Homo sapiens: one gene and its partners. The protein of the gene in region 1 interacts with the protein of each later gene in a pairwise test. Each region holds a gene or a part of one and is shown in the gene's direction. Other genes may lie near its edges.

Evidence for each region.
Region 2: the proteins of TSC22D2 (region 1) and WNK3 interact in a two-hybrid assay, tested with the Homo sapiens proteins (one study listed by BioGRID).
Region 3: the proteins of TSC22D2 (region 1) and REV1 interact in a two-hybrid assay, tested with the Homo sapiens proteins (one study listed by BioGRID).
Region 4: the proteins of TSC22D2 (region 1) and STK39 interact in a two-hybrid assay, tested with the Homo sapiens proteins (one study listed by BioGRID).
Region 5: the proteins of TSC22D2 (region 1) and KIAA0586 interact in a two-hybrid assay, tested with the Homo sapiens proteins (one study listed by BioGRID).
Region 6: the proteins of TSC22D2 (region 1) and ITGA2 interact in a two-hybrid assay, tested with the Homo sapiens proteins (one study listed by BioGRID).
Region 7: the proteins of TSC22D2 (region 1) and FLNB interact in a two-hybrid assay, tested with the Homo sapiens proteins (one study listed by BioGRID).

The regions. Positions count from the first base shown.
Region 1 is NC_000003.12:150,463,610-150,466,922, forward strand, and holds the end of TSC22D2 (TSC22 domain family protein 2), read left to right. Parts: 3' UTR 1-2,813; downstream 2,814-3,313. UniProt on the Homo sapiens protein: Reduces the level of nuclear PKM isoform M2 which results in repression of cyclin CCND1 transcription and reduced cell growth.
Region 2 is NC_000023.11:54,355,247-54,359,363, reverse strand, and holds the start of WNK3 (serine/threonine-protein kinase WNK3), read left to right. Parts: upstream 1-1,317; 5' UTR 1,318-1,678; intron 1,679-4,117.
Region 3 is NC_000002.12:99,406,518-99,410,017, reverse strand, and holds part of REV1 (DNA repair protein REV1), read left to right. Parts: intron 1-1,886; coding exon 1,887-1,989; intron 1,990-3,500. UniProt on the Homo sapiens protein: Deoxycytidyl transferase involved in DNA repair. Transfers a dCMP residue from dCTP to the 3'-end of a DNA primer in a template-dependent reaction.
Region 4 is NC_000002.12:168,160,596-168,164,095, reverse strand, and holds part of STK39 (STE20/SPS1-related proline-alanine-rich protein kinase), read left to right. Parts: intron 1-215; coding exon 216-357; intron 358-363; exon of another isoform or gene 364-374; coding exon of another isoform or gene 375-454; intron 455-2,253; coding exon 2,254-2,309; intron 2,310-3,500. UniProt on the Homo sapiens protein: Effector serine/threonine-protein kinase component of the WNK-SPAK/OSR1 kinase cascade, which is involved in various processes, such as ion transport, response to hypertonic stress and blood pressure.
Region 5 is NC_000014.9:58,486,719-58,490,218, forward strand, and holds part of KIAA0586 (protein TALPID3), read left to right. Parts: intron 1-288; coding exon 289-448; intron 449-1,168; coding exon 1,169-1,391; intron 1,392-1,902; coding exon 1,903-2,156; intron 2,157-3,445; coding exon 3,446-3,500. UniProt on the Homo sapiens protein: Required for ciliogenesis and sonic hedgehog/SHH signaling. Required for the centrosomal recruitment of RAB8A and for the targeting of centriole satellite proteins to centrosomes such as of PCM1.
Region 6 is NC_000005.10:52,992,352-52,995,851, forward strand, and holds part of ITGA2 (integrin alpha-2 precursor), read left to right. Parts: intron 1-3,500. UniProt on the Homo sapiens protein: Integrin alpha-2/beta-1 is a receptor for laminin, collagen, collagen C-propeptides, fibronectin and E-cadherin. It recognizes the proline-hydroxylated sequence G-F-P-G-E-R in collagen.
Region 7 is NC_000003.12:58,147,922-58,151,421, forward strand, and holds part of FLNB (filamin-B), read left to right. Parts: intron 1-284; coding exon 285-443; intron 444-727; coding exon 728-931; intron 932-1,928; coding exon 1,929-2,081; intron 2,082-2,183; coding exon 2,184-2,306; intron 2,307-3,500. UniProt on the Homo sapiens protein: Connects cell membrane constituents to the actin cytoskeleton. May promote orthogonal branching of actin filaments and links actin filaments to membrane glycoproteins. Anchors various transmembrane proteins to the actin cytoskeleton.

The DNA.
Region 1 (3,313 bases):
GTGCTACTGTAACTATATCTTTTGTGGAGTACAATTGGTATGACATGCTGTGTTCATAGATGAAAATGCTAAGTGAGGCACTCTGAAGCAAGTTAAAGTTCACAGACATTCTTGCTTGCCCACCACCCCCCCGAACCCCGCCATGGAATCATCAAATAAGAAAAATAAGACAGATTTTCAGATTGGTGATGGCAAAGTAAGACGCTGGTATTTTGCACTGGCGCAGTCCATTTAGTTGTTGAATTTGTTCAGCATACCTGGATGGTGAGTGAGTTAGCTTTATTTTTCATTCTCAGCAGGGAAACTGATAGACTAGGCAGTTTGGGGAATTTTCCCATTGTCTACTGTCATGGGTCCATAGTATTTAAGTTTACAGACTACAACATTGTCCACAGAAGCCATATTTATCCCCTTGGAGGGAAGGGAAAGGTGTGCTAACTTAGATCATAAAAACAACTGAATTTTAAAACAAGGCAAATGCCACAGTTCAACTTCTCCATAAAAAAGTTAAGTTCATCTCTCCATTCTTTTGCATGCCTACAATATTTCCATATAACAACTGTAAAATACTCTTGCCTGCTGCAATCCAAATGTTATCCGGATCACAGTTCTTGCTGTCATTTCACAGGCATGCAATGTATCTATAGATAGGTCATATCATACCTGAGGAAGATCAGAGACAGCAAGGGAACATTTTCCCCACACTTGAGATGGAAATAATAACAGGTCAGTGGCTAATAAAAAGAAACATGTATGACTTTGTAAAACCCTAAAAGTGATGTTTTCAAGAAATTTAGGTTTCTTTTTTTTATTTTATAAAAAAAATGTTGACATGCAATTTAATTCTATTTCAATTTAGGTGCTGCAACCTGTACTGGATGTTTGGGGATAGAAAGATGAATGGGACATGATTTGTGTGCTCCAATGAGCTCAGTCCAGTGTAAGTGTAAAAGTTAAAGTGCCATATTGTTTATTCAGAGTATATGTTATAGTTTGTGAACCTTATATCATTTGTTAAATGAAAGGTTTTTATAAATCAACAGTAATATTGCCATCCCATGTAAAAATCCTTTGATATTGCCAGGAAACAACTTTAAATCACCAGAAAGCTTTAACATCAAATAATACTTTTAGAAGGAGGGGAAAAGCCTTCCACCTCGACATCGAGCCTATGAAGTATTCCCTAAAAAAGAGGAACTAATCTGAGAAAAGTTTACACATTTTTAATACTCTAAGTTGTAGATAATGAAATTGATTTAAATCAAAGTTAACTAGAATAGGATTCATGTGTCATGAATTATATTGTCTATTGTCTCATAAGCAACAAGTGACACTTATTATCTTGGCTGACAAAATCAGCTACCATTTAATGAACCAAGTTAAGAATAACTCAGGTGACTGATACCAAAAATAAATCTCTAATACAGCTGAGAATCCAGAAACACAAATAATATGTTGAGTAAGTAATAAAAGTGACATTTCAAATTAGTAAGGAAAAAATGGATTATTCAACAAATAGTATGGGATAGCATAACAATTTAGAAGAAATATAAAGTTAGATCTTTCACAAAAATTAATTCTAGCTAGACTAGCAGTTAGTCTTCTACTTTTTGGTTACTCCCTTTTAGAAATTGGAAGCTATGAAGCTATATACCCTGTCCATTTGAAAATGCACATAAGCAAAGAACTTTACAAATAGGTTATAAAGAGAAGCTCAATCTCAGCAAAATAAGGGAAGTGCACATTAAAACACAAGAAACCATCTCAGATCCAACTAATATTTAGCGTGCATACAAATCAAAAGCTGGAAAGGGTGTGGAAAAACAGGAATACATTGCTAGTGAGCATACAAATTGGCACAGCCTCTTTTAAAGACAATTGTGTATCACCCATTAAATTTTAAAAGTCACATACCCTGTGACCTAACAATTCCAACTTTTAATGTCCTAAAGAAACATACATGTGTTCACAAGATAGCCTGTACAATGATGTCAATTGCACCTTTGCTTGTACAGTAGACCCCCTTATCTGCATTTTCACTTTTTGAGGTTTCAGTCATCCAAGGTCAACCACAATACAAAAATATTAAATGGAAAATTCCAGAAACGAACATAAGTTTTAAACTTCAAACCTTTCTGCATAGTATAATAAAAATCTCTCACTATCCCTCTCCATCCTGCCTGGGACAGGAATCATCCCTTTGTCCAGTGTATCCACAATGTATACACTCATTATATACCCATTTTATAATGCCCATTAGTCATTTCTATTATCAGATCATAAAAAAACATAGTACATAGAGGGTTTGGTATTATTCATGGTTTCAGGCATTCAGTGAGGGTCTTGGAAAATATCCTCCATGATGGGGGAGCTACTGTAATACTATGAAATTGGAAAAACCAAAATACTCATCAAGAGGATGGACTATGGTACACATGATGAAGTATTAAGTATCAATGAAAAAGAGAGAGTCCTACATGTCCGGCATGGAAGGATCTCCAGGAGACAATGTTAAAAGTTTGGGGGAAAAATTGAAAGACAATACCTGTAATACATATGATACTAGTGATGTTAAATCACATCACACACACACACACACACACACACACACACACACAAATACTGTATAGTGTACTTCTACAAGTACATATTTGTGTATTATATAGAGAGAAGGTCTGGAAGGATACTAACCAAACTGTCAACAGTAGTTTGGTAGCGTGCATTAGCTTTAACTGTAATGTTTGATGTTTTTGAATATGCATTTATGTATTGTTTGTGTAATGACAAATTAATAAATTAGAAATAAAATAAAATAATGTGTTTTCTTCTTGTCTGCTGCTAATGTTTCCCCCTGGTACCTGGGGTCTCATCATGTTCAGCATCTTTCCTCCCCAGGAATATCTTCCCCCCCTACCTGTTTCTTCTACTTCGCCTTCTCCCATGGCTTTTTCACATCAGTATTTATACAGGCTCAATAAATAACTGGCCAATAAATGAGTAGACCACCTCCCCTAACTGAAAATATGTTCCCTTCACTTGCTTTTTCAGCTCCTTCCTCTTCCTTTCCACTTTTTCCTCTTCCACGTACAGCTTATCACAAACGCAGTCTGGCTTTAGCTCCCATTGTGCCACTGAAACTGTTCTTGTCAAGGTCATTGATGATCACTTTGTTGCTAATTCTATCCCATATCTTATTGAACTGCTTTACTCCTAATTTCTCTTTATGATCATTTCATTACTCTAGTAGTTTTCTATCTCTTCATTTTCTAACTTCACTTTTTTTTTATAAAGAGTTTCCCTTATAAAAAGTATA
Region 2 (4,117 bases), on another chromosome or scaffold:
GCTCTGGAGTGAGCACACCTGGGTTCAAGTTCTAACTCCACAAATAGTATGAAGTTGAGCAATTCATGTCCATTTCCCCTCCTGAGCCTCAATTTCCTCCTCTGTCGGGCCGGGATTATTCATGGGAGAATGACGGAAACAATTCTATACTGCTTCTGGCATAGCACAGGAAGCAGTTTGAAGCCGCTGCGCCGAGGCTAACATGTACCGAAAGCTCGAAGGAGGCAGCATTCACTACCAGCTAGAGGATCTGGGAGTTTTTCAAGGAGGTGGCCGGTGGGAGACACAGAGAGCCAGTCTCAGTGGGAGGCAGCCTTTCCGCATGCGCGCGCTCTAGAAGCCTGGCGGCGGCGAGGGGGCGGGACCAGGTCTCTGAAGGGGTTGCTATGGCACCAAGGGGCCGAGGAGGTTCACCGAACCCTTAAAACCATTGCTCCCTCCCCCACCTGCCACCATCAGGGCCGAGGGCCATTGTTCCCGGCAAAATGGCGTCGGAAATCCCCCTCCCGGTCAGAGGCCTAAGTAAAACTGAGGGTGGGAGTCGGACCATAGGTGGGAAGAAAAACTACAATTCCCAGGGTACATCGCACCCGTCTGCGAGGCGCAGGGCACGTGCCCAGGCCTAGCGGTTACATGCCGTCAAAAATCAGTTTCATAGCTTCCCTTTCCCATCCCTGCTTTGGTCGTTTCCCAGCCCCCGCGCGCGCGCACTGCGGTCCTGGGGGGCGGGGGAGACATGCCGTGGCTGTTGCCCCCGCAACGTAACTGGGAGGCCAGTATTTGTAAATCGGTGCTTCGACTTCTAATCCCAAAGCCGGCAGGTATGGGTCTCGCGAGAAATCCCGGGAGTTGGAAAAAGGGAGTCAGGGGTGGCGGGCGAAAAGGTGCCGGCGGGTACCACCTCCTAACAGCGGCGCTACAGCATTCAGAGGCTCGCGGAGACCCAAGGGTGGGCAGTGGGGGGCTAGGAAGTAGTGTGTGCTTGGACTTTTCTTCTTCTTCTTCTTCTCTGAGGGGAGAGGGTAGAGCAGCTGAGAGAGAGCGAGAGCGCTTCGGAACACACAGGAGATGTCGCGCGTGCTTCCTCTAAGAGATTTTCTCTTTGGAATGGGGAGAAGCCTTTCTCCTCGACGCGCATCCCTCTCTCCCGCGGCGCCGAGGGGGGCGGGAGGCGTGCGCGCACTCTAGTTGGCTGGCCACTCGGCACCTCGCTGCGATAGGGGCGGTTCCGAGTTGGGGCTGCTCCGTTGGCTTTCTCCGCCCCTCCCCCTCTTCTGTTCTCCCCTCCCTTCCCCGCCCCCCCTCCGCCCCTCTCTCCTACCCGTCCGAATTCCCTGGCTGGAGTACGCGTGCGTCTGCTCAGCTCCGGGCCGAGCGCGAGCTTGGGCTCGTACCCCGCTCCCCTCTCTCCGCCCGCTCTTTACCTACCGGCCGTAGCTGGCCCGGTGGGCTCGCGGGGAGACGCTCGCGCGCGCAAGCGCACACGACGCGGAGCGGAGCTCGAGACATCGAGGAGAGGAGTAAGAAGCATCGGAGGAGGCGATCGAGGAGGAGGCGGTGTGTGTGTATGTGTCTATTCTACGGTGTGGCTCGTCGTGGGGCGAGAGGAGGCTCGAGAGAGGGCGAGGGAGAAGCGAAAAGAGTAAGAGAGTCTTCCTTTGCGAGAGCCTCTAATCTGGTGAGGGTCCCGGGCCGGCCGGGGCGCTAGGAGAGAGGGAGGAGGCCGGGGGGCGTGTCTGGGATCGGGCTGAGAGATGAATGGGCCAGGGATGAATGGAGGGAGGCAGCGGCGGCCAAGAGTCTGTTAGGAGTAAGCGCCCTAGCGGGGGGCGGCTTGACCGAAGCAGGGTGAGTGCCTTCACCAGTCGGTACCGGACGAGGCCGGGCTCCGGGCTAAGGGGCTGTCGAAACTGCTGAATAGGCGGAGAGGAAAATGAACAGGGGGAAAGTGGGGAAGGGCAGGTTTGAGGCTGAGGTGCGTTTTTTGTTTTGTTTTCTTTTTTGTTTTTGATTTTTTTTTTGGTTGTTGTTGAGGGGTGACAACTTTGGGAGCTGATGGAAGACCAGGGGACGGGGAAGGTGAGGAGGATACAGGAGGGGGACAGGAGACGGTTGACAAAGGACTGAGTGATCACTTAAGTGAGATTGAAGCTACTGAAAGGGAAGATCGCTTCGGGTGTGGGAAGTTCAGTTGTATTGATGGGAATAGGATGAAGGAAAGAGTAGATTTATTTCAGAGGTTCAGCTGATGTGTGAGGGACAGGATGGGGTGAGAAATATTGCTGGCTTGTGTAAATGTGTTAGGCTCAAGGAGATTCTGAGGTGTTATTTGGGAAGGGGTGGTGTGTGTTGTGTGACTGACAGGTTGGGGATGGGGAGGAGATGGTATGATAGGTGAGGATGAAAGTGGTGAGGTGGCTTCACTGTACTGAAAGAGGTTTTGTTTGACTAGTTAAAAGTGGTGAAACATTTATATAATGGGGTGGGGGTGGAAATCCTGCACGTGAGTATCTCCGTATCTTGGGGGTTGAGAGACTGTTAAAATGAGACTGAACCCTCAAAACAGATGCGAATAGTATGGCTATTTTTTCTTAAGAGTTACTGTTGATTGAGACAATTATATGAATAAAACAGCTTTTGAGTTGTGAAAATCTTCTGCATAGTAGTGATTGTATCCAATTTTTGGAGATACCGTTATCTGTTTTTCATCTATAGTAAGTTGTAATACCAAGAGAACTTTTGAAGAGGTCTTAGTATGTGACAGAGCAGCGGGTGTCTTTTAAGACGGTCTCTATCCTTTGGATTGATGAGTTTAAAAATTGTTTAAACTCGACAGCTCAAGGGAAAGATACCTTGCATTAAAGGATAGCAAAAATGCACTAAAGCTTAGCCGGGCGTGGTGGAGCGTGCCTGTAATCCCAGCTACTTGGGAGGCTGAGGCAGAAGAATCTCTTGAACCTGGGAGGCAGAGGTTGCAGCTAGCCAAGATTGTGCCACTGCACTCTAGCCTGGGCGACAGAGCGAGACTCTGTCTTAAAAAATCCACTAAAGCTGACTTTGAACTAAAATAATTGTACATTTTTTTTGGTCATTACGAATTTATCTTTGAAAATTGGCACTCGCTTTTTGGTGTGAGTTTAAATTACAACAGATTACGTGAACATTTTGTTCTCTGAATACTTATCTTCTGATAAGGATGTCTTGTCCTGGTCTCATTCTGTTCTGGGTCAAGATTAACGGTTATGGATTTTAATCTTTTGTGATTATTTTTTACACATTTTACTGATATATATTTAGTTTTCTTGGAAATGTTGCAAACTTGAGAACATTCCCATGCTGTTTTTCTTTTATTCTGCTTTGATATTGGAAAGAGTGTAATCCTTGTTTAGGCTACCCGCAGTTTGAATACAAAAGGTCATATTCTGTTCATAGTCTCTCAGATTGAGATGAATACTTAATGTATTAAATAGTACAGTAGAAGTATAAAGGCACTGTAAGAGCCTGGAAATGTTGCACTAACTCAACCAGGCAAGGCGGCCTCCCAGTTTTGAACTAGATGTTTCTAGATGAAGGACATTCACATTTTGGGTCTTGAAAGTGTAAGCATGGTATATTTGGAGAATGGAATGAGATAAGGCTGGAATCTTAGGTTGAGGCTGGGGTGAATTAGGAACTCTTGATTGTTTAAGAAGGGGAATAACATAAACAGATTTATGGTGTTTCTCTCTCTGCCTTTGCTTCTGATGTCCCCCTCTACCTGGAATGCTCTCTCTCCCCCTCCCCTAGAATTTGAACTCATTCTTTTAAAACTTAACATTTGTCACCAGCTATTCCTGAAAGCCTTTCCTGGTTTCCCTTTCTTCCTTTTCCCAGCATCCTCCACCAAGCTAGGTTAGGTCCCCCTCTTTAGAGTTCTATCATACCTTGTACATAATTTTATTACGGTACTTTGGTTGGGAGGCAGGTAGGAAAGGTATTTTTCTCCTTCTATCTGAAAAAGAAATGAAGCCCAGAAAAACAAGACATGCCCTAGTAAGTGGTGAACCCCGGAGTTCTGACTTCTAGACCATTGTTGATCTTCATATCACAAGTTTACATTTGCTTAAATAATTATAGT
Region 3 (3,500 bases), on another chromosome or scaffold:
ACACAAAGGCAGACTATAGTAGCTAGAAAAATGATGGTGAAGGAGAGCAACTTCATTTACATAGGTGTATACATTTAATTGGTAAAAAGATGAATGAATCACTGTAATGTCTGAAAACTGGTAAAAGCATTTAAAAACGCTGTTTTTTTTGGGGGGGGGGGGGGTTGTTTGTTTTGAGACAGAGTCTGGCTCTGTCACCCAGGCCTGAGGGCAGTGGTGCGATCTCGGCTCATTGCAACTTCTACCTCCTGGGTTCAAGCAATCCTCCTGTCTCAGCCTGTTGGGTAGCTGGGATTATGGGGCATGCCACCATGCCCAGCGAATTTTTGTATTTTCAGTAGAGATAGGGTTTCACTATGTTGGCAAGGCTGATCTTGAACTCCTGACTTCAAATGATCCGCCCACCGCAGCCTCCCATAGTGTTGGGATTACAGGCATGAGCCAATGTGCCCGGTCTGAAACACTCGTCTTTTATGTCAGGGCCAACTACTTAATATTAAACTTCATGTAAGATTCGTGACCAATATGAAGATGTGTGGTTTTACATGTCATTTTATATTGCACTGTATTTCATCTGTGAAACCAAAATTTTGAGACTTTTGACACTGAAAGCTACTTACAATATGAAGTATAGTTTCATTAAAGATTAGCTCATGCCAACCATACATGGTGCATTCATGTATATGATGATATTGCTAAGTCGTGAGACGACTGCTCTTAAACAGAGAAACTCCCAAGTTACCATGAAAGCAGGAATTATAAATTACAATTAGAGAACATAATTTATAAAATACATTTTTTATCAGTTGGTTATCTTGAATTATATTTACCTACCTGTTATGATACACATGTATCTCAAATAGTAAATAGTGGTCATTTATTTATTTACTTTAAAAACTTATTTATGTAGAGACAGGATCTCGCTCTGTTGCCCAGGCTGGCCTTGAACAATCCTTTTGCCTTGACCTCCCAGCGTTTTGGGATTACAGGTGTGAGCCACTGTGCTCAGCTTTTAGTGGTTATTTCTATAAGCAGATGAAGTAATGTGATTATCTTCTTAAACATTTCTATGGGAAAATCCAATTCAATTTATAATAATTTTTTCTGGGAATATTTCTTGTTTAATGGCCTGGAACTTCATTTGTTCATTATACATGGAAAGGATCATCCAAAACACGAAATAACTTTCCTTTGGAAAGAGAACTGGTAGTAATTTGTTAATCTGTTACTGAGTTAGTAATTCTGTTTGCAATGGGACAGCCCGCTCATGCCAGAGAAGCTCAAAAGGCTCTGAAGGAAATGGTGGGTGAGGTCAGCACATCTTTGAGACCTAATAATGCTGATGGACCATTTGGTCCTCCTTCAAGAGTTCTTAAAGATCTAAGAATTGTTTATTGGCTGTACTGTAAACACAATGAAAGGAGAGTCAAGAAACAACATACAGAGAATTTATCTTTCTCTTCTGAATATTTGCTATACCTCAGCATACATAATCTTGGAACCTAAAACTTCTCTTGGAATCAAGAACATTGTGTTTACCATTCACTTGTGCTTTAGCTGGAAAATATGTATTTATTTGTGCATATGTTAGCTAAAATCTACCTTTTTCTAAATTTCTCAACTTATTTTTAGTTGACCTAAGTGTCCATTACGGTTTTTACCTTAAAGTTCTAGTGTTCCATAATTTTTCTTTCCCCCTTGGTTGCCAGTGTAACTAATTTGGTATTTCTGGCTTCCTTGAAGGGAGACTATGGCATTCACTTTTATAATCTTCTTTGTAACTGTTTACAACTTTTCTATAACTCTTTTAAACAGTTCCATACTACTTTAGTACTAGTGAATACATATGGAATGAAGCTTTTGTTTTTTAATTCTATCACTTACAGGACTGTAACTCTTGACCAGGCAACAGATAATGCAAAAATAATTGGAAAGGCGATGCTAAACATGTTTCATACAATGAAACTAAATATATCAGATATGAGAGGGGTAAGTATATAGTAACATTGTAAATTCTGACTTTGTGTAATGTATCTCTCATTTTTGAGGCTTGCTCTCAAAAGGGTTATTGCTGGTGTATAGGGACTTTATATGTAGGTCTTTAGCTGCTTTGTAATACAAGGAAAAGAGAAACAAAAATTCTTGACTTCCTCCATTTTGACCTCCTTCATTTTAGAATAATTTTCTTAGATTCTTACTGTACTTTTCCAAGGTACCCCTGATTAACCAGGGGCTAATATACATGTCTTCCCTGTTCTTGTTTCCTAGAAGTAGATATGACTGTGAGGAATATGAATACATAAATTTTGTACCTTTAAGTTCCTTTTTAATCAGAAACATACTCTGCATCTGCTGTATGATGACCTAGAAGGGAGTGAAACCACAGGCACATCAAGATGCCTTTGAAACAGGCAAGAGGCATCAAAATGTCAAAACCATAGATTTTTGTGTGGGGTTTTTTTTTTTTGAGACAGTTTTTGCCCTGTTGCCCAGGCTGGAGTGCAATGGCGTTGTATCGGCTCACTGCAACTTCCGCCTCCTGGGTTCAAGCAATTCTCCTTCTTCAGCCTCCCGAGTAGCTGGGGGTACAGGCACCCGCTACCACGCCCAGCTAATTTTTTGTATTTTTGGTAGAGATGAGGTTTCACCATGTTGGCCAGGCTGGTTTCAAACTCCTGACCTCAGGTGATCCACCCACCTCAGCCTCTCAAAGTGCTGGGATTACAGGCACTTGCCCCCATCTCTACTAAAAATACAAAAATTAGCCGGGTGTGGTGGTGCATGCCTCATAGTCCCAGCTACTCGGGAGGCTGAGGCAGGAGAATCACTTGAACCCAAGAGGCAGAGCTTGCATGAGCCAAGATCGTGCCACCGCACTCCAGCCTGAGTGACACAGTGAGGCTCTGTCTCAAAAAAAAAAAAAAAAAAAAAAAAAAAGAACCTTTGTAGGTTTAGTTTTATGTGTGCATATGTAAGTAAAGGGTTGTTCTGGCTTGATGTGGGCTTTGTTGAAAGATTAGTCACTAAGCCAGCCGTAATTGTGATTTCTCCCTGAAATACTGTTATAATGGCACTTTATGGAGGGGTCTGCAGTGTACCTGCTGTTCATCACTCCCGCCAATATTTTTTGAGAAGTATTTCATTTAAAAAAGATAAAAATAGTGAAGTTTCCAAGTAGACTGTCCTCTCTTAATTTTTTTTTATCCTAATTTAAAACCTTAGTTGACGAGAACATCAGTGGAATACAGTATTCCACTTGTTTGGATTTTCTGATTTTAAAGATCTTTTGGTATATTTTGGGAGAATTGGATACTCTGAAGTTTGAGATGAATGACCACTCACTAGCTACTTTAGAAATTGTTTTTGTAATAAGTCATATAGAATGCTGTTTGAATACTTTCATTTACCTTTATTCTAGAAACAGGATCCAGGAGATAGTGAAAAGGATTTGCTGAGGATTTTGCTTAGCTGAATTCATATTTTCACTTTAGTTTTCCTAG
Region 4 (3,500 bases), on another chromosome or scaffold:
TTCTCGTTAAATTCACACTGAAAGTGCTCTTGCAAACTTGGATTTAGTGTTTTTGGTCATGGGGCCCCCATTCAATTGTTTGTTTGCCTTGGGAATATTTGCATTAAATAAAGCCCATATTTTGATGTTTCTATTAAATTTTATACATAATGGAGTCTTGTTCTGAAAAGGTGATGAAGGTGCTTATGTTTTAATTCTTCTGTTTGTCTACTTAGGTTCAATGTTGGATATCATAAAATACATTGTCAACCGAGGAGAACACAAGAATGGAGTTCTGGAAGAGGCAATAATAGCAACAATTCTTAAAGAGGTTTTGGAAGGCTTAGACTATCTACACAGAAACGGTCAGATTCACAGGTATGACCTCTGCAGAGATGTTTAAATTCAGATGTTCATATCTTAAAGAGGTTTTGGAAGGCTTAGACTGTCTACACAGAAACGGTCAGATTCACAGGTGTGACCTCTGCAGAGATGTTTAAATTCAGATGTTCATATCTTCAGCCCTAGTTTGTAAAGAATGTTAAGGAAACACATGTTGCAGGCAGGTATTGACATTACTTTAACTTAGTCTAAATAGATGGGAAAAAAGTACTTAAGAAAGAAACAAGAGAATAAATTTTGATGAATTATATTGGTATCCTTGGGATTGCTTCAGTTGCTTTCACTGAAATAAGAGTGGAATCTAAAAAGGACTACATGGACTCATTTAAAAAGATCAGTTTTGGTAACTACTCTTGAATTATACTAGTTGAACTAGACAGCATCTCTATCTTTCTAATACAAGCAAGACTATCCAAACATTGTACTATGTGAATTATTTTTGATGTGGTGGTGAGAGGGAAGGAAGAGGTACTCATCTTCTTTTGTGACATAAAATGTTAATTCTTTACATAGTCAAATCACATAGAATATGAGTGCTTGATGTTTCAAGTGAGTGAGTGCTACTTGGGCTCTTAGGAATTATTGCAAGTAAATAGCCATTTACCAGTAATACTAATAATGTAATTCTCCTACCCTGAAATTTATATTTAATTATTTCTACTATATTTTTCTTTTTCTTTTTTTTTTTGAGACAGAGTCTTGCTCTGTTGCCCAGGCTGGAGTGCAATGGTGTGATCTCAGCTCACTGCAACCTCTGCCTCCCGAGTTCAAGCAATTCTCCTGTCTCAGCCTCCCGAGTAGCTGGGATTACAGGCATGCGGCACCATGCCTGGCTAATTTTTGTATTTTTAGTAGAGATGGGGTTCACCATGTTGGCCAGGCTGGACTGACACTCTTGATCCCAGATGATCTGCCCACCTTAGCCTCCCAAAGTGCTAGGATTACAGGCGTGAGCCACTGTGGCTGGCCTATATTTTTCAATAATTAGAAAAAAGTTACTTTAGAAATCAAATTTATAAATTGCAAGTTGTCATTTTTCAAAGTACTAAGATTACACAGGTTTTATACGGTGAAGAAATATAATATCTATTATTATAATTAGTATTTATAATCAGTCTCTCACCAGAGAGAAGTTCATTTTTCAGAAAGATAATTAAGTTGGAATTGCATCCCAAATTTAAGTGGAAGTAGAGGAGCTTTACATAGACTGGGCTTTAATACTTGGTAGAATGACAGTAGTGTGAGTTTATGGGCAGTGTCTAACTCTGAAGCATAAAATAGAGAGTCTATTTACTGATGATTTAATTAAATTTGGATAATTATTTCATAGAAAATATTTCTTTCTAAAATCCTAACTCTCCCCCACGAGTAAACTATAAAGTGACAGGTGGATCCTTATACCTTTTTTTTTTTTTTTTTTTTTTTTTTGAGACCAAGTTTCACTCTTGTTGCCCAGGCTGGAGTGCAGTGGCACGGTGTTGGCTCACTGCAGCCTCCACCTCCCAGGTTCAAGTGATTCTTCTGCCTCAGCCTCCCAAGTAGCTGGGATTACAGGCACCTGCCACCATGCCCAACTAATTTTTATATTTTTAGTAGAGATGGGGTTTCACCATTTTTTCCAGGCTGGTCTCGAACTCCTGACCTCAGGTGCTCCACCCACCTTGGCCTCCCAAAGTGCTGGGATTACAGGCGTGAGCCACTGTGCCCAGCCTATCCTTATAACTTTTAAAATCTGTGCTATTATCTTAATATTTATGAAATTATTATGTCAAAGAGCTGCGTTGTATGATATGTTTTAAAATCTTCCTGAGTGAATCAATACACTATAAAGTCTGTACCCTACAATTTATTTTCTATTTTTTTTTCTAATAGGGATTTGAAAGCTGGTAATATTCTTCTGGGTGAGGATGGTTCAGTACAAATAGCAGGTAAAGCTGATAAATAGAAAAATTTTTTACTTGATTACGGAAGTGTTACAGTTTCAAGGAATGTAGAATCATTCCTGAGAAATGAATAAATGCATGTAATCTCTTTTCAGAATGATATTTACAGAATGTTTGGGTCCGAAGGATAACATATTTTCCTTATTGTTTTGATAAGTCATTAGATCATCCTGTGAAAAATGCCATTTTAGTACATAGCTTTTTGATAAAGAATAATTTTATTTTCAATTTTATTATGTTTTCTACCTTTCACATTTTATAATGGTAATACTCATATAACTTCAAGAAATGCACTTGTAAAAACATTTTTCGATAGGTTTGAAAATTTAAAACATCATACACATCAATTAAAAACTAATTTATTTCTTAAGAGGTATCTGAAAGAATTGTGAACATTAAAAATCTGGGCCTTATTTTGTTTTTAACTCTGACCCAACATGGCTATTCTTGACAAAGCTGGTAGGCTGGGGATGCAATGAATGTCTTTTACATGAACACACAATATCAGGTGAGCACCTTTCGTGTTCAAAGCCTCTATTTTGTTATTGGCCCTAGAGTAACCTTAAAGGCCTGGGATAAGATGTAGCCACGCCCATATTAACTCTTGCTTTACCCATGTCGTTGAAAGTCTGTCTCAGCAATCCTTTTAGCTTTCATGGTTTCTTGGGGGAGTGTTCTTGGCATTTTTTGGCTAGACAGTCATTCCCTCTACTGGAGTGACCCTGTCATTGCAGAGACGCGTAAGATGAGCCCACTTGTACCCATCACCTAGTTTCAATAATTATCAATCTTTGGCAATTCTTGATTCATCTGCTGCCCCCCACCCCCACCCCCCGACTCTGGTGCCTCTCCTCATCGTGGAGGCTGGATTTTGTTGTTGAGCCATCTGAGTTAGTGCTTTGTGTGTGCATATCTTGTCCTCATGAGTGGACCTTATCCCATAGGCTAAGGACAGTTTGAAAAAGTACTTCAGTTAAACAAGTAACAGCTAAGAGACATCTGTGGGCAAAGATTTCAAACTGTCCAGCCCCAAGCAGTCTAGTTGTTCAGAGTGCAGGCTCTGGTGTCAGCTGACTTGATCGAAATTCTGAGGCCACCACTTAGTAGCTGTACCACCTTGGGCAAGTTACCAAACCTTCTTAAGACTCAGTTTCCTTAAAGAAGGGTAAAAATATA
Region 5 (3,500 bases), on another chromosome or scaffold:
AACAGAACACTTATACACTGTTGGTAGGAACGTAAATTACTTCTTCTCTATTTTAAAAGAGGGTGCCTTAGAATTCTGTGGGGACCACTTCAGAGGCAGAGTTATTTCAATTGCCTGAGACTTGCTGCAGGCCAATCGTAGACTAACAGGTAGAGGTTCAAGAGGTAGGGTACTTAACCCTGCCATCAATTTAAATTATATATAGTCTATGAATGAGTTCATATTATTTTCAAATTACTTTTATTTGGGTGATTATAAACACAGTTTATCTTGTTTTATTTATTTTAGGCAAGAGTGTGCACCCCACTGCCTACCCCACAGCCTACGCCTCCTTGCTCACCTTCATCACCTGCTAAGGAGTGTGTTTTGGTAAAGACTCCAGATTCTTCTCCCTGTGATTCGGATCATGATATGGCTTTTCCTGTGAAAGAAATATGTGCTGAAAAAGGTAGAAACTTTATTTCTATAACTCGGTTTTAATTTTAGCAACTATTAAATTTCATGATTTGTATATGTACTTGTTGCTTACTAGGTTTTAGTAAATCATTTTTTCTCACAAGGAAATTTAGGAATTGATTGCGACTTCTTAAAAGTCTATAATTGAGGCCAGGCAGGCATGGTGGCTCACGCCTGTAATCCCAGCACTTTGGGAGGCTGAGGCGGGTGAATCACGAGGTCAGGAGTTTGAGACCAGCCTGACCAACATGGTGAAACCCCTCTCTACTAAAAGTACAAAAATTAGCCAGGTGTGTTGGCACGTGCCTGTAATCCCAGCTACTCAGGAGGCTGAGGTAGAAGAATTGCTTGAACCCGGGAGGCAGAGGTTGCAGTGAGCCGAGATCGCACCATTGCACTCCACCCTGGGCAAGGGAGTGAGACTCCGTCTCACAAAAAAAAAAAAAGTATACAATTGAATAGATGCTTAGACTACTTTAAGTATATGGTGGTATTAACAATGATGTCTTCTCAAGGTATTTTTTAACGCTTCACTAAATTTAGGAATTATCACATTAATGGCTACCACCATTGTCATTATTATTATTAATTATAATTGCCATTATTTGTGTGCTAAAATGGTAAGGGATATCTGAAGCAATGTATCATGCCATCCTATGGAGTTCTTTACTGACTACTATCTTTTTCTGTCCTTTTAAAAAAAAACCTTTAGGAGATGATATGCCTGCCATCATGCTTGTTAATACTCCAACAGTTACCCCTACTACTACACCTCCTCCAGCGGCGGCAGTTTTTACCCCAACTTTGTCAGATATTTCCATTGATAAATTGAAGGTATCAAGCCCAGAGCTTCCCAAGCCATGGGGTGATGGAGACCTGCCACTGGAAGAAGAGAACCCTAACTCACCTCAAGAAGAACTTCATCCAAGAGCTATGTAAATGAGAACATACTCACTAGTAACTGTACATTTCAACTTATGTTTGACTTATGTGATCCATTGAAAACATAGAAATATTATACAAAGCTTTATAAACCACAGACTACCTTATACTTTGAAAGAAAGAACTTTCATAAGTGTTGAGTTTTGAAAAATTATCAAATTATACCTTCACCTTTTTTCTTAAAAGGTTTGAAATAGCTAGAAATAAAGGTATCTATTATATTGTTAATAAAATAGAAAACAATTTCTCCCTATTGTGGATCATTATTTACTATGATCAGTTAACTTTTATATTATTTTATATCTCTCTGTATGGAAGAGCTTTCAAGATGGCCTATGATTAAAGCATGAAAACAACTTTTAAAAATCTTGTTAATTATAGTAGTGCAGATTTAAAAAAATATTTTGCTAAAGGAGACATAGTCTTCGAGTCTGTTTTTTATATCAAAATGAATACAGGCCTTCAGTGACCTAACAAGCTCCAAATATGTCTTTATTTTCTTAGTGTAATGTCTGTGGCTAAGGATGAAGAACCAGAGAGTATGGATTTCCCTGCTCAGCCTCCACCTCCAGAGCCAGTTCCCTTTATGCCATTTCCTGCCGGCACCAAGGCCCCTTCCCCCTCACAGATGCCAGGTTCTGATTCATCAACACTGGAGAGCACATTGAGTGTTACTGTCACTGAAACTGAAACTTTAGATAAACCCATCTCTGAAGGAGAGATTTTATTTAGCTGTGGTCAAAAATTGGCCCCCAAGAGTAAGTTAATTTGTATTAGTTGATTTTACTTGTTAGATTATGCTAATTCCCTAAGTAATACTTTTCTATTTAAAGTGTTTTTACTTAACTTTCAAGATTTAACATGGTATAGTAGAAAGAATAGGGGACTCAATGCAATTTAGTTAACTTTTCTGGGTCTTAACTTCAGAAAGTAAAATCTTCCTCATAATCCCACCCTCCAGAAATAATATCACTATTAATGGTTTGGGGTAGGCCTTTCCAGTCTTTTTTGTCTATGCATATATAGACACATAAATACATACGTATGTGGATGTATGTTTACCTTTAAAAATAGGATCTTACTATGCATATTGTTTTGAAACCTGAATTTTTTTTTTTTTTTTGAGACAGGTTCTCACTGTCATGCAAGCTAGAGTGAGGTGGCATGATCATGGTTCACTGCAGCCTCAACTTCCTGGGCTCAAGTGATACTCCCACCTCAGCCTTCTGAGTAACTGGGACTACAGGCATGTGCCACCACGCCCGGCTAACTTTTATATTTTTTGTAGAGATGAAGTTTCACCATTTTGCCCAGGTTGGTCTCAGACTTCTGAGCTCAAGTGATCCACCCGTCTTGGCCTCCCAAAGGGCTGGGATTATAGGCCTGAACCACCTCACCCAGCCTGAAACCTGAATTTTTTTTTTTACCAAATAATATATTGTGGATATCTTTTAATATAACTCCATATTTTTCTTATTTTTCTTTTCTGGCTGTGTAGTCTGTTTAATCCCTTAATAGAGGGCATTTAGATTGTTTTCAATGCTTTCAGTCTATACACAACTCTCTAATTACCATCCTTTCATGTATATATGTCTTTGTGCACTTATCTGGTCTCTTCCTTAGAATACATGCCTAAAAGCGAAATTGCTGAGTCTACTTTAAAGATGCATCACCAACATGCTTTCTAGAAAGGATTTTTTTTTTCTTTGCTCTAAGTTCTAGAAAGGATTTTTAGCTCTTAATCAGTTTTAATTATATCAACAGTATATGAGAATACCCGTTTCTCAATTTCATAACTACAATTGATATTTATAGTTTTTAATTTCTAACAAACTGGTAGGTTAAACAAAATTCTCATCTTTGTTATAAATTGTACTTCAAAAAAACTGGTAAGATTGAGTAGTTTGTGAATTACTTGTTTATAAACTTTGCCAGTATTTCCATTGCAGTATAATTTTGAATCTAATATGCTATGGCTTTATGGTCAGATTATTTACTAAGTTTGTGTTTCTTTTTTTTTTCTAAACTTTTATATTTTAATTTCTAGTTTTAGAAGATATAGGACTGTACCTGACAAACCTTAATGATAGCTTATCCAGCAC
Region 6 (3,500 bases), on another chromosome or scaffold:
TATCTCCAGCCAGCCTCCCCTTCTGAGTTCCAGATCAGTATTTCCATCAGCCACCAAATTTCTCCAGCTAGACAGTCTGTAAGTAAGCCAGATTCAACATTTCCAAAACTGAATTTAATACGTGTCCTCCAGAATTTTCTCCTCTATTGGCTACCATTGTTTAATGGCAGTATTATTATCACACAAACATGAAAGCCAGGAATTTGTCCCCATGTTTTCAACCTCACAGCCACTCTCCAAATTCTCTTGGCTCTCCTCCCATCCATGCAACTCCTGCCACCCAGTCAGTCCCTCATCTTATGTCTGTATGTAACTTTTAAACTGGATTTTCTTTTCTTATCTCTCCAACCCATTCTCTTCATTTTCACTAATGATATCTTTCTAAGACACTTATATGTTTCCAATTACTGCTTTGTTTCAAATGTTAGTGGCTCCCCATCTCAGGTAGGGTAAAGTGCCAATTTCTTGGCATGTCATAAAAAGGTACATTCTACCTATCCAATCTTTTCTTTACTGTATGCTTTCCTGAACACAAATACACATTCACACACACACACCACACACATGCCCACACATGTACACACTCTAAAGCCATCTATATACACCATTCTTTGTTATGACTACACCTGATCATACCATATTTAGTGTGAAAATATTTTCCAAATACTCCCTTTGCCTTCATTGCATTGTTGCTTTCACCCCTTTTCACTCATCTCTTTGCAACTGACCATTATCCAATGCTAGAAGGGTCAATCCCAAGCAAAATTATAAAGTAGAGAACTTTTACTTTTGCAACAAAAAGGAAAGCTTGAGGTAACCTACCTTTGCTGGGTCCCACCCTAAACCACCTCTCTGGTCTCATCCTCAGCCCCTTAATGGGACTTAGGCCGCCCTCTGATAAAGTAACTTTGCTCCCCTATGGCTTAGCAGTTATACCTGCCCAACCTCAGCTAAGCTTTGCTCTCTTAATACTAGGTCCTGAGCCACTGTTTGACTTAAATTTATGGACTGGGGTTTAGGATTCAGTATTTACAATGGCTCATATATTTCTGATGTATGGTCTGGTTTGGAAGTGATTGCTTAAATATCATCACTGCCTCCCCACTTTCCTAAGATTAAAATTCCAGTGTTACCTACCCCTTACCACCTTGTGGGATGATCACCAAGACAGGTAGATTTCAACATCAAGAGTTAGTGGCTGTGAGCGGCTGTGTCAGTTAAATTCCTTCCGAAGTGGATGATGACTACTCCCTGTCTTCATGTGCTGACAGCCCTGGAGATATTAAAAGGTAGAAGCTTGTTAATGTAAAGAGATGAGCTTCTCATGATGTAATTTTAGACATTCAGCAAAATAAAGACACATGTTCAGTCAATGTGTATAAAGTCAAGAATTTCAGGAAGAATGGGGAAAATATTTGGGGCCAAAAGTGTCCAGGCATCACATAAATTCTACCACTAAAGCCATAAGTCTTGACTACCAACACTGCTCAGCTTGGGATATTAGTAAAAGATTTAGCACAGCATAAAACAAGAGAAACCATGAAAGATCACCGCTCTGATTGGCAAGTGAAAGAAATGGAAGGTTGGTGGAGTTCTTTTTTTCCAGTTGTTCAGTGACCAATCATTTACCAGCAGAACATACAGAAGAGTGGCTCCCTACAGGGGAGAATCCTAGCACTGCAAATCATGAGACAATAGACTCTGTGTATGACAGTGATTCCTATGCCCCTTCAGGTGATCCATAGAGGCTTTATTGATCTGGCTACAGTGAATTTCATAAAACTAATACTTGATAATATTCTTATAAGGTATCTACTTTATGTAAGGCTGTGTGTTAGGCTCAAGGTGGAATCAGAGAAAACTTAAAACATGGCTGAGAGAGGTTGGAGTTTATTTGGAAAAAAATCCAAACATGGGGAAAGGAAATTGTCTCAGCCCTGAAGCATACTTAACCAATTTCAGCCCCTTGTCATCTTCCTTTCTAGCAGAAGTCCATTTATTGAGTTACCATCCTCTTCTGCATAGCTAAAAAATTGAGGTGATGCTGAAGGGTGATTAGGCTGGTCCCAGGCATCTGGGCTGTGTCTGATTTAGCCATGGGCATGTAATGCAAGGTTGACCAATGAGATCTGCTGGGTGACTTATGGGAAAAGAATTTTCATTCCTAAGAGAGATATTTGTTAAAGAAAATATTGTCAAGTTTATATGTGAAATTTGGAACAACTACAGCCATCTTGCAACTGCGATGTCAACTAGCTTAAGGATAAAGCTAGTATATTGGAGTTAGCCTTATGGAAAGAAATGGACTTTGATGTTGTCTTTGAACTTCTGAATTATTGGAATTTAAGACTATAGTATGTCTTGGTGTCTTTAAAATTTTCATATAATTTAAAACTTGGTTATATCATTTTCTATAACTTAGAGAGCTGTAACATCAGTTTCCATAGCATAATAGATGTCATGTGTTCACAATTAATGAGTGGTACAGATAACATGTTGAATTCAGAGGATGGAGAGATATCATTGTGATACATTGAAGTGTCTAGCCTCCTGAGATGTCTTCATGGAAACAGGTAAGAATCATTACAATTTAGATCTGCCATGAAGAACCTCAGAGATCCTGGAGTACAGTTTCTACCTTTTAAAATGGATGTAAGTGATACTAGAAAAGCAAGCAACATAACTAGCAATAGGACTCGTCTCCTAGTTCCTGGGGCAGATGTTTAGGTTCTTGAATAGAATACTGACGCAATGAAAACAGAAGGTCCTTATGCCCACAATGTGGTATTCAAGTTGTTCCCAGAGAGTGAAAGCTGAGTTGCAGCCACCAGACCTTGAAGGGCCTTGTAAGTCATGATATAGAGCAGGGGTTTTATCCTGAGAACAGTAGAAAGGTCTTGAAGGGCCTTGAGCAGGGGAGTGACATGATCAGATGAGGAGAGTGGGTTGGATGGAGGCCAGGTGGAAAGCACCAAGATCATTTAAGAAAGAATATGTTTGGGTTTTAGTTTTAGTTTAGGAGACCAGTTGTGAGATGATGGTGGTAAAAACTCAGATAGTGGCAGTAGGGAAAGAGACTGGAGGATTTATTGGAAAGGCATTAAAGAAGAAGAGTGAACAGGATTTGATGATTGATTTACTATGGAGGTGGAGAGAGAGGGAGAAGATAAGGCTGATGCTTAGGTTTCTGACATGGACAAGTCAGTTGATTTTGTGCCATTCACTGAGATAAGCAGTGCTGAAGGAGAGCAAGTTGGAGGAAAAAGATGATCAGTTCAGGTCAACAGATTGAGTTTGAGACATCTGGATGTACACCTGGATGTATATGTCTAATTAGCAAATAGTTATATGTAGTGGCGTTAGGAACAGGCAGGAAAGTAAGATGGGGATAGAGATTTAGGAGTCATTGGCACCTAGAGAATAACTGAAGATAGGACATTAACAAGATGAGTCAGGCAAAGGGACTAGAAGAGGGCTTTGGCCATGGCTCAAGGAACTGC
Region 7 (3,500 bases), about 92 Mb from region 1:
AGTGTTGGGATTAGGCACCTGGCCCAAAGATTCCTTTAAAATGTGGTCCATGAGGACTCAAGTCTCTAGGTCCTGCCAGCTTCTTGTCTTTGCTGCAAGCAGGCATGAATCCCATCATTCTTCATTGGTTGGGTCTACTCAGTGTTCAAGGCTCATTTTTTTTTCACTTAACTTTGTGTAATTAGTTCTTGCGTGTTCATCCGTGAACAGCATATGGCATGGCAGCTCTGTGAAGCCAGGGTAACCACATGTAACGGGAGTCCTTTTTGGGGGATGTTTCCCAGATGACAGCAGGCGGTGCTCCCAGGTGAAGTTGGGCTCAGCCGCTGACTTCCTGCTCGACATCAGTGAGACTGACCTCAGCAGCCTGACGGCCAGCATTAAGGCCCCATCTGGCCGAGACGAGCCCTGTCTCCTGAAGAGGCTGCCCAACAACCACATTGGTGAGCTAGGCTACCCTTCCTGGCTGGAGCCAGGACATCTTGGGTGGGAGATGGGGACTCTTGCAGTCCTTTCTTGGGAATGGGTAGCACAATGGAGTGTGATGTGATAAACCTGCTGGGTCACACGCACGATAAATGCCCAAGCGTATTTGTGCATTGTGATATCGACACTCTGGATTGTTGGGTGTCAGGAAAGAGGACATATTTCTATTTCTGAGAGTGTGTCTCTCTCCTGCTTCCTCTCCGCCATCCCCTTACAAGCCCCAATCTGTGTTCTGGTCCAGGCATCTCCTTCATCCCCCGGGAAGTGGGCGAACATCTGGTCAGCATCAAGAAAAATGGCAACCATGTGGCCAACAGCCCCGTGTCTATCATGGTGGTCCAGTCGGAGATTGGTGACGCCCGCCGAGCCAAAGTCTATGGCCGCGGCCTGTCAGAAGGCCGGACTTTCGAGATGTCTGACTTCATCGTGGACACAAGGGATGCAGGTCTGTGTGGTCCCAGGGGAGAGGCCCAGAGCTTGTGGGAACCGACTTATTTTGCTGAGGCAGCGTCATCTTTTCATCCTACCAACTCCTTTTCCTTTCTGAGCATCCTTCAAGCTATAGGTCCTTCTGCCTGCATTGTCTTTTATGCCTCATGACCATTGGCAAAAATGGGATTGTCTTTGTTTTTTAGATGATGAAACTGAGGCTTGCAAGGTTTAGAGCCCCCTCTGCACTAGGATCTGAACCCAGAGCCACAACACCTCGCAAACCCCTGTTTTCTTATCTGCTCTCCCACCCTTGTTCTCAGCTTCCCAGCGTCTCTCCAAGCAAAGAATGTTGGGTTGATTGGCCAAGACCATGGTCATCTGAGCAGAGCTTTTGTGGAAATGAAGCATCTCTTTCTGTTTTCTCTTTGAGATGGTTTGAGTTAGATTGTGTCTCTTCCAAGCTTGCCACACCCCAGTGCCTCCAGTCATCTGCTTTCTTGAAGGATGGCCACGCTGGTGAATTCTAGACAAATTCTAACCCGGGGAGAGGGCTGGAGAATTTCTGGTCCTGGTTGGGAGATACTCCCTGTTAAACCTTCGGATATGCTGACCTAGCTGAGGTAGCCAGGGGCTATTTAAAAATTCAAAATCTCAGATCTGGCTGTGGATAAACCCCCAAGGTGGTACGTGCAGTACTTGGAGGCGTGAGGGCAGAAGGTCCTCCCCAGCAGTTTGTACGGGACACATCATCTATGGGATATTAGTAAATATCCTTAAGGAAAGGCTTCTGTGGTCAAAACCAGGTTCAGCAGGTTATTTCACTATGGGGCTTCTCAGGACGCTTAACCTACTCATCCCCCTCTGGGCTTTGCAAACGAGGCCGCCATTGCTTTCTTTCTGCTATGTAGAAATAGATTGAGGCGTAAGGGTCGGATGTCCTTTCTCCATTCATCAGGCTCCCTCTTCCTGAGGAGCTGCTGTCAGAACAGCCTGGGGCTGCTGTGTTGCAGGTTATGGTGGCATATCCTTGGCGGTGGAAGGCCCCAGCAAAGTGGACATCCAGACGGAGGACCTGGAAGATGGCACCTGCAAAGTCTCCTACTTCCCTACCGTGCCTGGGGTTTATATCGTCTCCACCAAATTCGCTGACGAGCACGTGCCTGGTATGTGCATTCCATTCCCCTCCAGGTGGGATGCTTGGGTTTTCTGTAAATGCTGTGCCTTGGCCTCTGGCCTGCTCACAGGAGCCTTCTTGGGTCTTGCAGGGAGCCCATTTACCGTGAAGATCAGTGGGGAGGGAAGAGTCAAAGAGAGCATCACCCGCACCAGTCGGGCCCCGTCCGTGGCCACTGTCGGGAGCATTTGTGACCTGAACCTGAAAATCCCAGGTGGGCGTCGGGGACTAGTAGGGTGGGGAAGCCTTGGCTCCAGCCTTCAGGGCAGTGGGTGCCTTTGGGAACCAAGTTTAGGCATGGCCCAGAACACAGTATCCAAGTCGGCTGTGCTGACCTTTTCATTTCACTTCATTTCATTATGTTCTTCTATGTTTATTTTCACAGAGTCTCATCCAAGAAAAACAAATGTTTACCTTGCTACCTTTTTCCTCTTCCAAATAAAAATAGCTTTATTGTGTCACATGGGGGAAACGTAGATATGCTTTTAGATTTTTAGATTAACTATCTGTCAAATAGAATCATGTCAGTGAAAGAACTGGCCCTGCCGATGCCAGGGTCTGGAAGTATTTAAGAGGTGGCAGCCCAGCGGCATCCTTCTAGTATTTCTCTTTCATTCCTGAAATTAGAACGAGGGCTGTGCTGCAGAACTCGCTGGGCCACATCTAGCCCTTTGGTGGTGAATTGTTCTTCTTGGGCCCCGATTAGCCAGTCAACAGGTCACACAGTCTGTCTGAAATGTGTTCCAAGTTCTTTCTATAAAGAATCCTTCCAGAGGGAAGCCACTGTGAGTGAAAATTTTGAGGCTCCTCTGCCCAGAAGTTGGCATGTCCTGTGGAATTGCACAAATTCTACAGAGAAGGGAAATCTAAATCGTCTTCAGATGGAGCTTGTGTTGCGAGCTCTGGAGAGGGGGTTGTCTTTCTACACTGCATCTCCCATCCTTCCTAACGAGTCACGGAGCTGTCGACTCCGCCTTCTTGGCTTTAGTTAACAGGTTCTTCTTGTGTAGTCACATCAACGTCGGGTCACATGGGAATGTGGTAAAGCCTCATTACTGTAGAGTTCAGACATGATCACTTAAAAAGAGCTTTATTGGGCCGGGCGCGGTGGCTTACTCCTATAATCCCAGCACTTTGGGGGGCCGAGGCAGGCAGATCACCTGAGGTCAGGAGTTCGAGACCAGCCTGGCTAACATGGCAAAACCCTATCTCTTCTAAAAATACAAAAATAAGCAGGGCGTGGTGGCGGGCACCTGTAATCCCACCTACTCAGGAGGCTGAGGCACAAGAATTGCGTAAACCTGGGAGGTGGAGGTTGCAGTGAGCTGAAATTGCACCGCTGCACTCCAGCCTGGGCAACAAAGTGAGACTCCTTCTCAAAAAAAAAAAAAAAAAAAAAAAAGAGCTG